Linked DNA regions of Homo sapiens. The protein of the gene in region 1 interacts with the protein of each later gene in a pairwise test. Each region holds a gene or a part of one and is shown in the gene's direction. Other genes may lie near its edges.

What was found.
Region 2: the proteins of SRSF4 (region 1) and PRRC2B interact in a two-hybrid assay, tested with the Homo sapiens proteins (one large-scale study listed by BioGRID).
Region 3: the proteins of SRSF4 (region 1) and TICAM1 interact in a two-hybrid assay, tested with the Homo sapiens proteins (one large-scale study listed by BioGRID and IntAct).

The regions. Positions count from the first base shown.
Region 1 is NC_000001.11:29,150,855-29,154,503, reverse strand, and holds part of SRSF4 (serine/arginine-rich splicing factor 4), read left to right. Parts: intron 1-3,649. UniProt on the Homo sapiens protein: Plays a role in alternative splice site selection during pre-mRNA splicing. Represses the splicing of MAPT/Tau exon 10.
Region 2 is NC_000009.12:131,400,576-131,404,224, forward strand, and holds part of PRRC2B (protein PRRC2B), read left to right. Parts: intron 1-3,649.
Region 3 is NC_000019.10:4,828,893-4,833,016, reverse strand, and holds the start of TICAM1 (TIR domain-containing adapter molecule 1), read left to right. Parts: upstream 1-1,304; 5' UTR 1,305-1,403; intron 1,404-4,124.

The DNA.
Region 1 (3,649 bases):
TTCTCTTAGAAATCAGAGGCCTTGCTCACGCCTGTAATCCCAGCACTTTGGGAGGCCAAGGTGGGCGCATCACAAGGTCAGGAGTTCAAGACCAGCCTGACCAATATGGTGAAACCCCATCTGTACTAAAAATACAAAAATGCTGGGCGCTGTGGCGCATGTCTGTAATCCCAGCACTTTGGGAGGCCGAGGTGGGTGGATCACCTGATGTCAGGAGTCGAGACCAGCCTGGCCAACATGGCGAAATCTTGTCTCTACTAAAAATAACAAAATTTAGTTGGGCGTGGTGGGTGCCTATAATCCCAGTGACTCGGGAGGCGGAGGCAGAAAAATTGCTTGAAAATTGCTTGAACCCAGTAGGGGCAGAGGTTGCAGTGAGCCGAGATTGTGCCATTGCACTCCAGCCTGGGCAACAAGAGCGAAACTCCATCTCAAAAAAAAAAATGGTGTGGTGGCGCACGTACCTGTAGTCCCAGCTACCCAGGAGGCTGAGGCATGGGAATCGCTTGAACCCAGGAGGCAGAGGTTGCAGTGAGCCGAGATCGCACTATTCCACTCCAGCCTGGGCGACAGGGAGACTCCATCTCAAAAAGGGAAATCAGAGGCCGGGCACAGTGGCTCACGCCTGTAATCCCAGCACTTTGGGAGGCCAAGGCGGGCAGATCACCTGAGGTCAGGAGTTCGAGACCAGCCTCAATATGGAGAAACCCCGTCTCTACTGAAAAAATACAAAAAAATTAGCTAGGCGTTGGTGGTGCATGCCTGTAATCCCAGCTACTCGGGAGGCTGAGGCAGGAGAATTGCTTGAACCTGGGAGGCGGAGGTTGTGGTGAGCCAAGCGCACCGTTGCACTCTAGCCTGGGCAACAAGAGCAAAACACCGTCTCAAAAAAAAAAAAAAAAATGGAAATCAGAGGCCACCTTTCACATTTCTTCTTGGGACCCCTAGATCCTACTACCTTGGTTGATGGCACACATGGCAATTTTGTCTTACTTAGCACCTGAACAGGCCAGGCACTGGGCTAAGCATTGGAAAGGCTTTGTAAAGAAGACAAATGGCCAGACGCGGTGGCTTACACCTGTAATCCCAGCACTTTGGGAGGCTGAGGCGAGTGGATCACCTGAGGTCAGGAGTTCAAGACCAGCCTGGCCAACGTGATGAAACCCCATCTCTACTAAAAATACAAAAGTAAAAAAAAATTAGCCAGGCATGATGGCACACGCCTGTGGTCCCAGCTACTAGGGAGGCTGAGGCAGGAGAATCGCTTAAACCGGAACCCAGGAGGCAGGGGTTGCAGTGAGCAGAGATCACTCCACTATACTCCAGCCTGGGCGACAGAAAGAGACTCTGTCTCAAAAAAAAGACAAATATGGTCCTTGCCCCCCTGAAACTCAGTCTAGCGTAGAAGATGAGTATTGAATAAACCGTGCTATTGTGACAAGAAAATGCACACAGCACAACTAGTCTAGAGAGCTGGCAACAGCTTCCCTAAGGACATGCTGTAGAACTGAGCCCTAATGAATAAGGCAGAGAGATGGTGAGCAGAAGAAAATGCCTTTCTTTCTTTCTTTTTTTTTTTTTGAGACGGAGTTTCTTTCACTCTGTCACCCAGGCTGGAGTGTAGTGGCACAATCTCGGCTTACTGCAACTTCCACCTCCCGGGTTCAAGCGATTCTCCTGCCTCAGCCTCCTGAGTAGCTGGGATCACAGGTGCACACCACCATGCCTGGCTAATTTTTGTAATTTTAGTAGAGACAGAGTTTCACCATGTTGGGCAGACTGGTCTCGAACTCCTGACCTCAGGTGACCCACCCACCTCGGCCTTCCAAAGTGCTTGGATTACAGTCTTGAGCCACCGTGCCCGTCGAGAAAATGCCTATCTATCTAACAGAAAAGGGTGTTTCTGAAGGCCTGGGGGCAGGAGAAAGTTTTCCAGAGTAGAGAAGCTAATATAGAGAGGTAACGGGAGGAGAGTGGCTTGAGATAAGGCAGAGAAGGACCAGATATACTGACCATTAGGCCAGAGCAAGAATGGAAGAGTAGTGAGAAGTCACTGGAGACTTTTCAGGTTTTGTTATTTAGGTCTTTTGACTTTTTATTATGGAAAATTTGAAATTTATATATGAAGCATTGGAGAACTCTGAATTGCACCTCCCACTCCTCCAGCTTCTGTAGTTTTTATTTTGCCAGTCTTGTTTCACATCACCCGCTCCTGCTGCATTGTTGTAAGGCAAGTCTAGACATCTATCATTCCATCTGCAACTGCTTCAGTATGTATCTGTAGTATTTTAAAAGAAACCATGATAACATAGCTAGCAAAATTAGCAATAATTCCATACTATGATGTAATATCTAGGTTGTATTCCAATTTTTCAGTTGTTTGTTTGTTGTAGAAATGGAGTCTTGCTATGTTACCCAGGCTGGTCTTGAACTCCTGGGTTCAAGCGGTCCTCCCACCTCAGCCTCCCAAAGTGCTGAGATTACAGACGTGAGCCACTGCACCCTGCCCTAGTTGTCTCAAATAGGTATTTTTGCAATTGGTTTCTTCAAACAAAAGTTGAAAGAATAGTTAATGAACACCTGTATACCCTCCTCTGGCTTTAACAGATAGCATTTTGCCTTTTCTCTCTTTGTATGTATGTATTTATACAAGCACACTGTACATTTATTTTGTTGTAGCATTTGAAAGTAAGTTGTAGAAATTATGATACTTTGCCCCTAAATACTTCAGCATGTGTCTCCAAGAATGAGGATAACCACAGTTCTGTTTTTTCACCTAAGAACATTAATAGTAATTCCATCTAATTACTAAATGCCCAGGCCATATTCATGTTTCCCCAGTTACTCCATGGATGTCTTTATAGCTGGGTTTTTTCTTAACCGGGATCTAATCCAGTCATGTAGTACAAGGGGTTTTTAGGTAAAACCTAATGTAGTCAGGCTTTTAGTGTGGAGCAGTTCCTTCATGACATTTATTTTGCTTAGGTTTGGGTTTTTTTGTTTGTTTGAGACGGACTCTTGCTCTGTCGCCCAGGCTGGAGTGCAGTGGCACCATCTCAGCTCATTGCAGCCTCTGCGTCCCAGGTTCAAGCTATCCTACTGCCTCAGCCTCCCAAGTAGCTAGGATTACAGGCGTGAGCCACCACTCCTGGCTTATTTTTCTTAGTTTTTTAATACTCACATTCTGTATTTATCTGTTTCTTCTTAGTATCATTGAACTTGTATCTTATCCCCTGAACTTCCTATATACTGGAAGTTAGGTCTGGAGAGGTGTGATTGAGATGCAGGTTAAACATTTTTAGCAAGAATACTTCATAGGTGATGGTGCCTGGGCAGCTTTGAAAGTTTCCCTCTTTCTGTCATAATGAGATGGTCTAGGCCCATCTTTGTGTACTACTTCCTGCTTTACGCCTGGAGTCAGTCATTTTCCCAAGGAGTCCTGGTTGGTAGAAAATAAGAATCTACAGTCTGGATGCATTAAAAAAATTTTGTAAAGCTTGGATTGTCGGTCTCTTTAAAACAGCTCTCGTCACAGTGAGTTGAATAGATCGTAAAGGGGAAAAGTATACACAGAAAGGCTGGTTGTTGAACAAGGGGAGAGATAATGGTGGCTTGCCCAGAGAGGCAGCAGCAGAGGTAGAAAGACCGA
Region 2 (3,649 bases), on another chromosome or scaffold:
CCAAAGTGCTGGGATGACAGGTGTGAGCCACCGTGCCTGGACACCCAGGCTGTTTCAGACTCCTGGACTCAAGTGATCCCTCCGCCTCCGCCTATCAAAGTGCTGGGATTACAGGCATGAGCCACGGCACCCAGCAAGGCAGCCTCTTTCATGAGCCACTAGGTTCTGGGGGGTCTCAGTCCTGGTTAAGCCCTTTGATGAGTGGGGCTTGAGGTCTTACTCCATTTACTGGTTTGAACCTGGAGAAGCCTTTTGTCTTAAACAGTTTTTGTTTCTAGGGACATGGATGCCCCATTGACTCCTGGGGAGATCCTGGTCTGGTGGGGAGGAGGCCCTGGAGAGCCCCCCACCTAACTTTGGCCTCATCCTCTTGTGGTTTCTTTCTTTCTTTTTTTTTTTTTTTGAGACGGAGTTTTGCTCTTGTTGCCTAGGCTGGAGAGCAATGGCGCGATCTTGGCTCACTGCAACCTCTACCTCTCGGGTTCAAGCGATTCTCCTGCCTCAGCCTCCTGTGATTTCTTCGGAGCCCCCTACAGTTTCTCTTTATAGCAGTTTTCACAACTTGTAAATAGGTGTTTTTTTCTTTATTTGAATTTTAAAAATTGTGGTGAAGTATACATAACATAAAATTTACCATTTTTAAGTGTACAGTTGAGTGGCGTGAAGCACTTTCACAGTGTTGTGCAACCATCACCACCATCCATCTCCAGAACGTTCTCATCTTCCCAAACTGAAACTCTGTTCCCATTAGATGCCAACTCCCCTCCCCCATCCAGTGGCGGCGGCCACCATTCTTACCATTCTTTCTCCTTTTTTTTTTTTTTTTGAGATAGGGTCTCACTGTCGCCCAGGCTGGAGTGCAGTGGCACGATCTTGGCTCACTGCAACCTCAGCCTCTTGTGTAGCTGGGATTACAGGCACACGCCACCACACCCAGCTAATTTTTGTATTTTTTTGTAGAGACGGGGTTTCACCATGTTGGCTAGTCTGGTGTCGAACTCCTGGCCTTAAGTGGTTTGCTTACCTCAGCCTCCCAAAGTGCTGGGATTACCGGCATGAGCCACCGTGCCTGGCCTAGTTTTTGTATATTTTATTTTATTTTATTGAGACAGAGTTTTGATGTTGCCCAGGCTGGAGTGCAATGGCGCGATCTCGGCTCACTGCAGCCTCTGCTTCCTGGGTTTAAGAGATTCTCCTGCCTCAGCCTCCCGAGTAGCTGGGATTACAAGCGCCTGCCACCATGCCCAGCTAATTTTTGTATTTTTAGTGGAGACGGGGTTTCACCATGTTGGCCAGGCTGGTCTCGAACCCCTGACTTCAGGTGATCTGCCCACCTCGACTTCCCAAAGTGCTGGGATTACAGGCGTGAGCCACTGTGCTTGGTCTAATTTTTGTATTATTGTTATTATTTTTGAGACAGAGTCTCGTTATGTCTCCCAGGCTGGAGTGCAATGGCACGATCTCGGCTCACTGCACCTCTACCTCCCGGGTTCAAGCGATTCTCCTGCCTCAGCCTCCTGAATAGCTGGGATTACAGGTCTGGCTAATTTTTGTATTTTTAGGAGAAACGGAGTTTCGCCATGTTGGCCAGGCTGGTCTCGAACTCCTGAGCTCAAGCGATTTGCCTGCCTCGGCTTCCCAGAGTGCTGGAATTACAGCCATGTGTAATCCCATGGTGGCAATGTTGAGCCACCTTGCCCTGCCAACCATTTTACTTTCTTTCTGTGAAACCGAATACTCTTAAGTACCTCATGTAAGTGAGATCATCCAGTATTTGTCATTTTGTGTCTGGCTTATTTTTAGCATAGTATTTCCAAGGTTCATCCATGTTGCAGCATGTGTCAGAACTAACTTCATTCTTAAGGCAGAATAATATTCTCTTATTTGCATGTATCTACCACATTTTATTTATTCATTCAGCGACGGGCAGCAGCCTGTAGATAGTTTTGTTTTCATGTATTGAATGGTCCTTTCCCCCAGTGGAGTGAGTAAATGCATCCGGAAGCAGAATTCTGTTGTTTCCCATTCATCACTGTGTGCCAGGTGTCTGAGAAGGGGGTCTTATAGGAGCCCACGCAGAAACCAAGCTCACCTCAGTCTGGGTGTGGGGCAGTCAGGGAAGGCATTCTGGAAAATGTAGCTGACTCGAAATAAGCACCTATTGAAAATAGTGTGCTGAGCCCTGGAACATTAAAAATGTGTTCCTATGTGGAAATCAGAAATGTATGGGTCCCAGAAGAGAACTTGTGGGTCAGCCTGCTTTCCAGAGAGTGCCGAGGCCCTTTGAATGGTGAACATTATGCAAGCATTCTTGTATGGCCAGTGGCCAGCAGGGAGGAGGGCAGAGAATGACTGTGCCTCCGGGAAGCCGGCGTCAACTTCCCGACACGCTTCAGGATCATCTCTTTGTATAGAACCATGGGATGGATCGCTGCAGGACCTACTGGAAAAAGGAGGTCATCTCCAGGACTCTTTCCATGGGTCCTTTGTGTCTTGCAGAACTTTTTTCGGCAGGTGTTGTTTACATATGGTTCAGAGCTTAAAGAACAGCTGTGTTCCAGGCCAGGGCAGAAAGCACAGGCCTGTCTGGGAGGGGCATCATCACTCCTGCCTGCCTGCCCAACCGACCTGTCGGTGGACTGAATGGGCCAAGTGTTCAGAAGTCCTTGGGAAGAGGATAGTGTCCTGAATCATAATGTGGTATTTTCTGGTTTTTTGTTTGTTTGTTTGTTTTTGGTAAAATGTTAATTGCAGAAGTATACAGGTTATTTTATTTATTTATTTATTTTTTTTTGAGGTGGAGTCTTGCTCTGTTGCCCAGGCCGGAGTGCAGTGGCATGATCTCGGCTCACTGCAACCTCCACCTCCCAGGTTCAAGCAATTCCCCTGCCTCAGCCTCTTGAGTAGCTGGGAGTACAGGTGCATCCCGCCACGCCTGGCTAATTTTTTTTTGTATTTTAGTAGAGATGGGGTTTCGCCTTGTTGCCCAGGCTGGTCGCAAACTCCTGAGCTCAGGCCATCTGTCCACCTCAGCCTCCCAAAATGCTAGAATTACAGGCGTGAGCCACTGCGCCTGGCCCATACTTTAAAAAAAAAAAAAAAAACAAAATTAAAAGCCAAGTGTTTGAAGAGAAATGAAAGCTTTTCCCCAATGTCCCAGGCAGTAACCATTATTGATAAATTTGCTTTGTTTATCCTTCTAGGCTCAGTGCACGTATAAATATGGCCTCATGTAGGGAGGTTTTTTAAAAAACAAAAATGGGATATACTATATTGTATTGCAACTTGGCATTTTCAAAATATCACAGTATTTTTCCATACGTATTTTTAAGCGTAACTTCTCTTATTTTTATTTTCAGTAATACTTTTTTTTTCTTCCTTAGGGATGTGGGGGTGGGTCTCGCTATGTTGACCAAGCTTGTCTTGAACTCCTGGCCTCAAGCTGTCTTCCCATCTTGGCCTCTGAAAGTGCTAGGATTACAGGTGTAAGCCACCACACCCAGCCATTTTTCCATATTCATGTGAACAGACCTGCCACACTAAGTGTTTTAAAAATAATGTTAGGTTTCTAAAAAATATACAGGTGTGTAAAAGAAGAAAAAATCGTTTATAATCCCATGGTTTAGATATTCCCAGTTGACTTTTTTTT
Region 3 (4,124 bases), on another chromosome or scaffold:
TAATGAAGACAACCACAGGACCTGGGACTTTGTCCGTTTGTCCCTAATAAAAACCACAGATACTTTCAGATTGCATTGCAACCAGAAACACATCTGACACTTGTCACCACGGCAAAATCACTGTGATTATTAGATCTTATTTAATGTGGTGATAAAAATAATATAGGCCAGGTGCGGTGGCTCACACCTGTAATCCTAGCACTTTGAGAGGCCGAGGCGGGAGGATTGCTTGAGCCTGGAAGTTTGAAAGCAGCCTGGGTAATATAGGGAGACCCCGTTTCAAATAATAATAATTATTATAATCATAAAATTAGGCCGGGCGCAGCGGCTCACGCCTGTAATCCCAGCACTTTGGGAGGCCGAGGCGGGCAGATCACCTGAGGTCAAGAGTTCGAGACCAGCCTGGCCAACATGGTGAAACCCCATCTCAACTAAAAATACAAAAATTAGCCAGGTGTGGTGGCACGTGCCTGTAATCCCAGCTACTCAGGAGGCTGAGGCAGGAGAATCGCTTGAACCCATGAGGTGGAGGTTGCAGTGAGCCGAGGTCGCACTACCGCACTCCAGCCTAGGCCACAGAGTAAGACTCCAACTAAAAAAAAAAAAAAAAAAAAGGGAGGCCGGACACGGTGGCTCACACCTGTAATCCCAGCACTTTGGGAGGCCAAGGCAGGTGGATCACCTGAAGTTGGGAGTTCGAGACCACGCTGACCAAGGTGGAGAAACTCCATCTCTACTAAAAATACAAAATTAGCCAGGTGTGGTGGCACATGCCTGTAATCCCAGTTACTCAGGAAGCTGAGGCAGTAGAATTGCTTGGACCCGGGAGGCGGAGGTTGCAGTGAGCTGAGATTGCGCCATTGCACTCCAGCCTGGGCAACAAGAGCGAAACTCCGTCTCGGAAAATAAATAAAAAAATAAATAAACAAACAAACAAATAAAATAAGAGAAATAAAATAAAAACAGCTGCTACATTTATTTCCTGGAAAGCACCTATCACTAACGGAGATGATCCCACTTTACAATTGTGATTACTTTCTCATCTGGGACCCCCGCCCAGATGACTGTGGGCTCCCCGAGAGCAGATGCGAGTTCTTCTGGCCCCCTGCAGACAGTAGGTGCTCACACTTGCTGAACGTGACCGCAAGGGTTGGGAAGAGAGCGCATGGGTGCGGGGCGACCCGGGGACTTTCCCGGTGCTGCGGGGCAGGACTCCGAAACCGTGACCTCACGTCCCACACCCACCCGGGACGCGGAAGGGGCGGCGCGCTTCCTTCCCAGGGCGCGGGCCGCGGGGTGGAGCCAGCGCCCTCAGCGCGCTACGGTCCGCGGGCAACTCCGCAGAAGCCCCAGCCCCCAGGACCCCAGGACCCAGTGGCGCAGCCGGCAGCCCCGGATCCCTGGTAGGTGGGGAAGGGGCGAGGACGGGCCTGAGGTGGAGAAGGTGTCGGGGGTGTGGGGGGTGGCCCTGAGCCCGTGCCGCTCGCCAGGGCTCCAGGCCACCTGGCCTCCCTCTTAGGGCCCCGGTGCGGAGGAGGGGGCCTGGCGCCGCGCGTTGGGAGGTTGACGTTCCCCTCAACCTCCAGCTCCCCGCGCTGGTGGCCCAGATCCTCCCCCACTGTCGGGATCCTCCCCAGCACCCTGGCTTCCTCCCCGACAGCCTGACCCCTCCCCCAAACCCCAGATTCCTCCCGGACACCCCAGATTCCTCCCCAACACCCAGGATTCCTACCTGAAACCCCATATTCCTTCTCACCCCAAATTCCTGACACCCAAGCTTCCTACCTCACACCCCATATTTCTCTCAACGCCCTGAATTTCTCCCTGACACCCAAGGTCCCTCCCTGATACCCCAAATTCCTCCGTGACACCCAGGACCCCTCTCTGACACCCTGGATTCTTCCCCAACACCCAGGATCCCTCCCGAATACCCCAGATTCCTCCCAGACACCCCAAATTCCTCCCTGACACCCCAAACTCTTCCCTGACACCCAGGATCCCAACCTCACACCCTGTACCACCACACACCTTCTTCCTTTCTCCCCCTCCTAACGGTTATCCAGCCACATGGGCTTCCTTACTGTTCCTCCAGCTCACCAGGCGCAGTCCTGCCCCAGGGCCTTTGGGCAGGTGGCTTCACCTTCCAGAAGCTTTCCTCCCTGATCTCCACCCAGCCTCCTCCCTCAGCTCCTTTAGGTCTCAGCTCAATGTTACCTCCTGTCCCCAAAGGCCTCCCTTGACCACCGTGGTCCCCTGTAGCCCCTTCCCAGCCAGTCTCTCAGAGCCACACAGCCCCCGGCTCATGGCTTTCACGTTACTTTTCATTCTCTGAAATGATCTTGGGTTATTTTCTCGCTTACTGTTGGTCTCCCTGAACCAGACTGGGAGCTCTGTGAGGGTAGATGTGCCTGCCTTGATATGCAGTGGCACTTTGAACAGTTCCTGGACCTAGTAGGTGCTCAATAAATGCATATTCGATGCATGAAAGGCTGCATGAGAGTGTGGGAAGGAGAGTGGGAGAGGTGGTTAAAACATTTAAAAAGGACAAGGTGGGAGGATCACTTGAGCCCAGGAGTTCAAGACAAGCCTGGGCAGCATAGCGAGACTCCACCTCTACAAAAAAATTCAAAAAGAAAGTTAGCCGGGTGCAGTGGTTTATGCCTGTAATCCCAACACTTTGGGAGGCTGAGGCAGGTGGATTGCTTGAGCCCAGGATCCTGGGTAACATGGGTGAGACTCTGTCTCTACCAAAAATACAAAAATTAGCCAGGTGTGGTGCCGCACACCTGTAGTCCCAGCTACTCGGGAGGCTGAGGTGGGAGGATCACTTGAACCCGGGAGTTCAAGGCTGCAGTGAGCCGTGATCCCACTACTGCACTCCAGCCTGGGTGACAGAGTGAGACCCTGTCTCTAAAAAAAATGAAATGGGGCTGGGCAGGTGGCTCACGCCTGTAATCCCAGGCAGATCACCTGAGGTCAGGAGTTTGAGACCAGCCTGACCAACATGGCGAAACCCTGTCTCTACTAAAAATACAAAAATTAGCGGGGCGTGGTGGTGCATGCCTGTAATCCCAGCCACTCAGGAGGATGAGGCAGGAGAATCACTTGAACCCAAGAGGCGGAGGTTGCAGTGAGCCCAGACCACGCCACTGCACTCCAGCCTGGGCGACACAGCAAGACTCTGTGTCAAAAAAAAAAAAAAAAAAAAAAAGAAATGAAATTAAAAATCAAAAATTTTTTTAAAAAGGAAGAGGAAGAGAAAAAGTCTGCCAATATTTATTGTCACACTAATATTATTATATCAAGCTCTTGCTCCTTGCTGGGCACTGATCTAAACTTTTTAACCATATTTTCGCATGAAAGCTTCAAAACAGACTCCCATTCATCCTAAGTACCAGTTCATGTGGGTGTTATAAATGAGGAAGCTGAGGCTGAGAAACAGACCACACAAGCCGGCAGGTGGCAGAGCCAGAACCCTCCTACCCCATGGGTGTTTTTGTCCCGCCAGGCGCCTGCTCTTCAGAGTGAGGAGTGGACTTTGTCCCAGCCATGGACAGTGAGAAATGAAACTTGCTGGGTCTCGAGAAGGTGGAGGTGGCAGTGGGCAGGGGAGGCGGGCGGGGGAAGCTGGGGCAGTCACTGAAATAGAGTTGAGTTCAGGCCCGGGGGGGCAGAGAGAATGAGAAGAAAGACCACGTGATTTTAGAGATTTGCCAGGCATTCAGGTGGAGATGGTCCTGCCTTGATGATTCTAAGTCTGGCTGGCTTTGTCGTGTTTTCTGCAAAACTCCCCTGAGTCCTTCTTGCAAGGAGGTTTCAGTCTTGCATGCTAATGTTTGTGGGGCATGCGTGTGCCAGGCACTGCTTTAAGAGTCCTATACAGGCCGGGCGCAGTGGCTCATGCCTGTAATCCCAGCACTCTGGGAGGCCAAGGCAGGCGGATCGATTGAGGTCAGGAGTTCGAGACCAGCCTGGCCAACAGCCTGAAACCCTGTCTCTACTAAAATTACAAAAACTAGCAGGGCGTGGTGGCTAACGCCTGTAATCCCAGAATTTTGGAGGCCAAGGCAGGCGGATCACGAGATCAAGAGATTGAGACCATCCTGGCCAACATGGTGAAACCC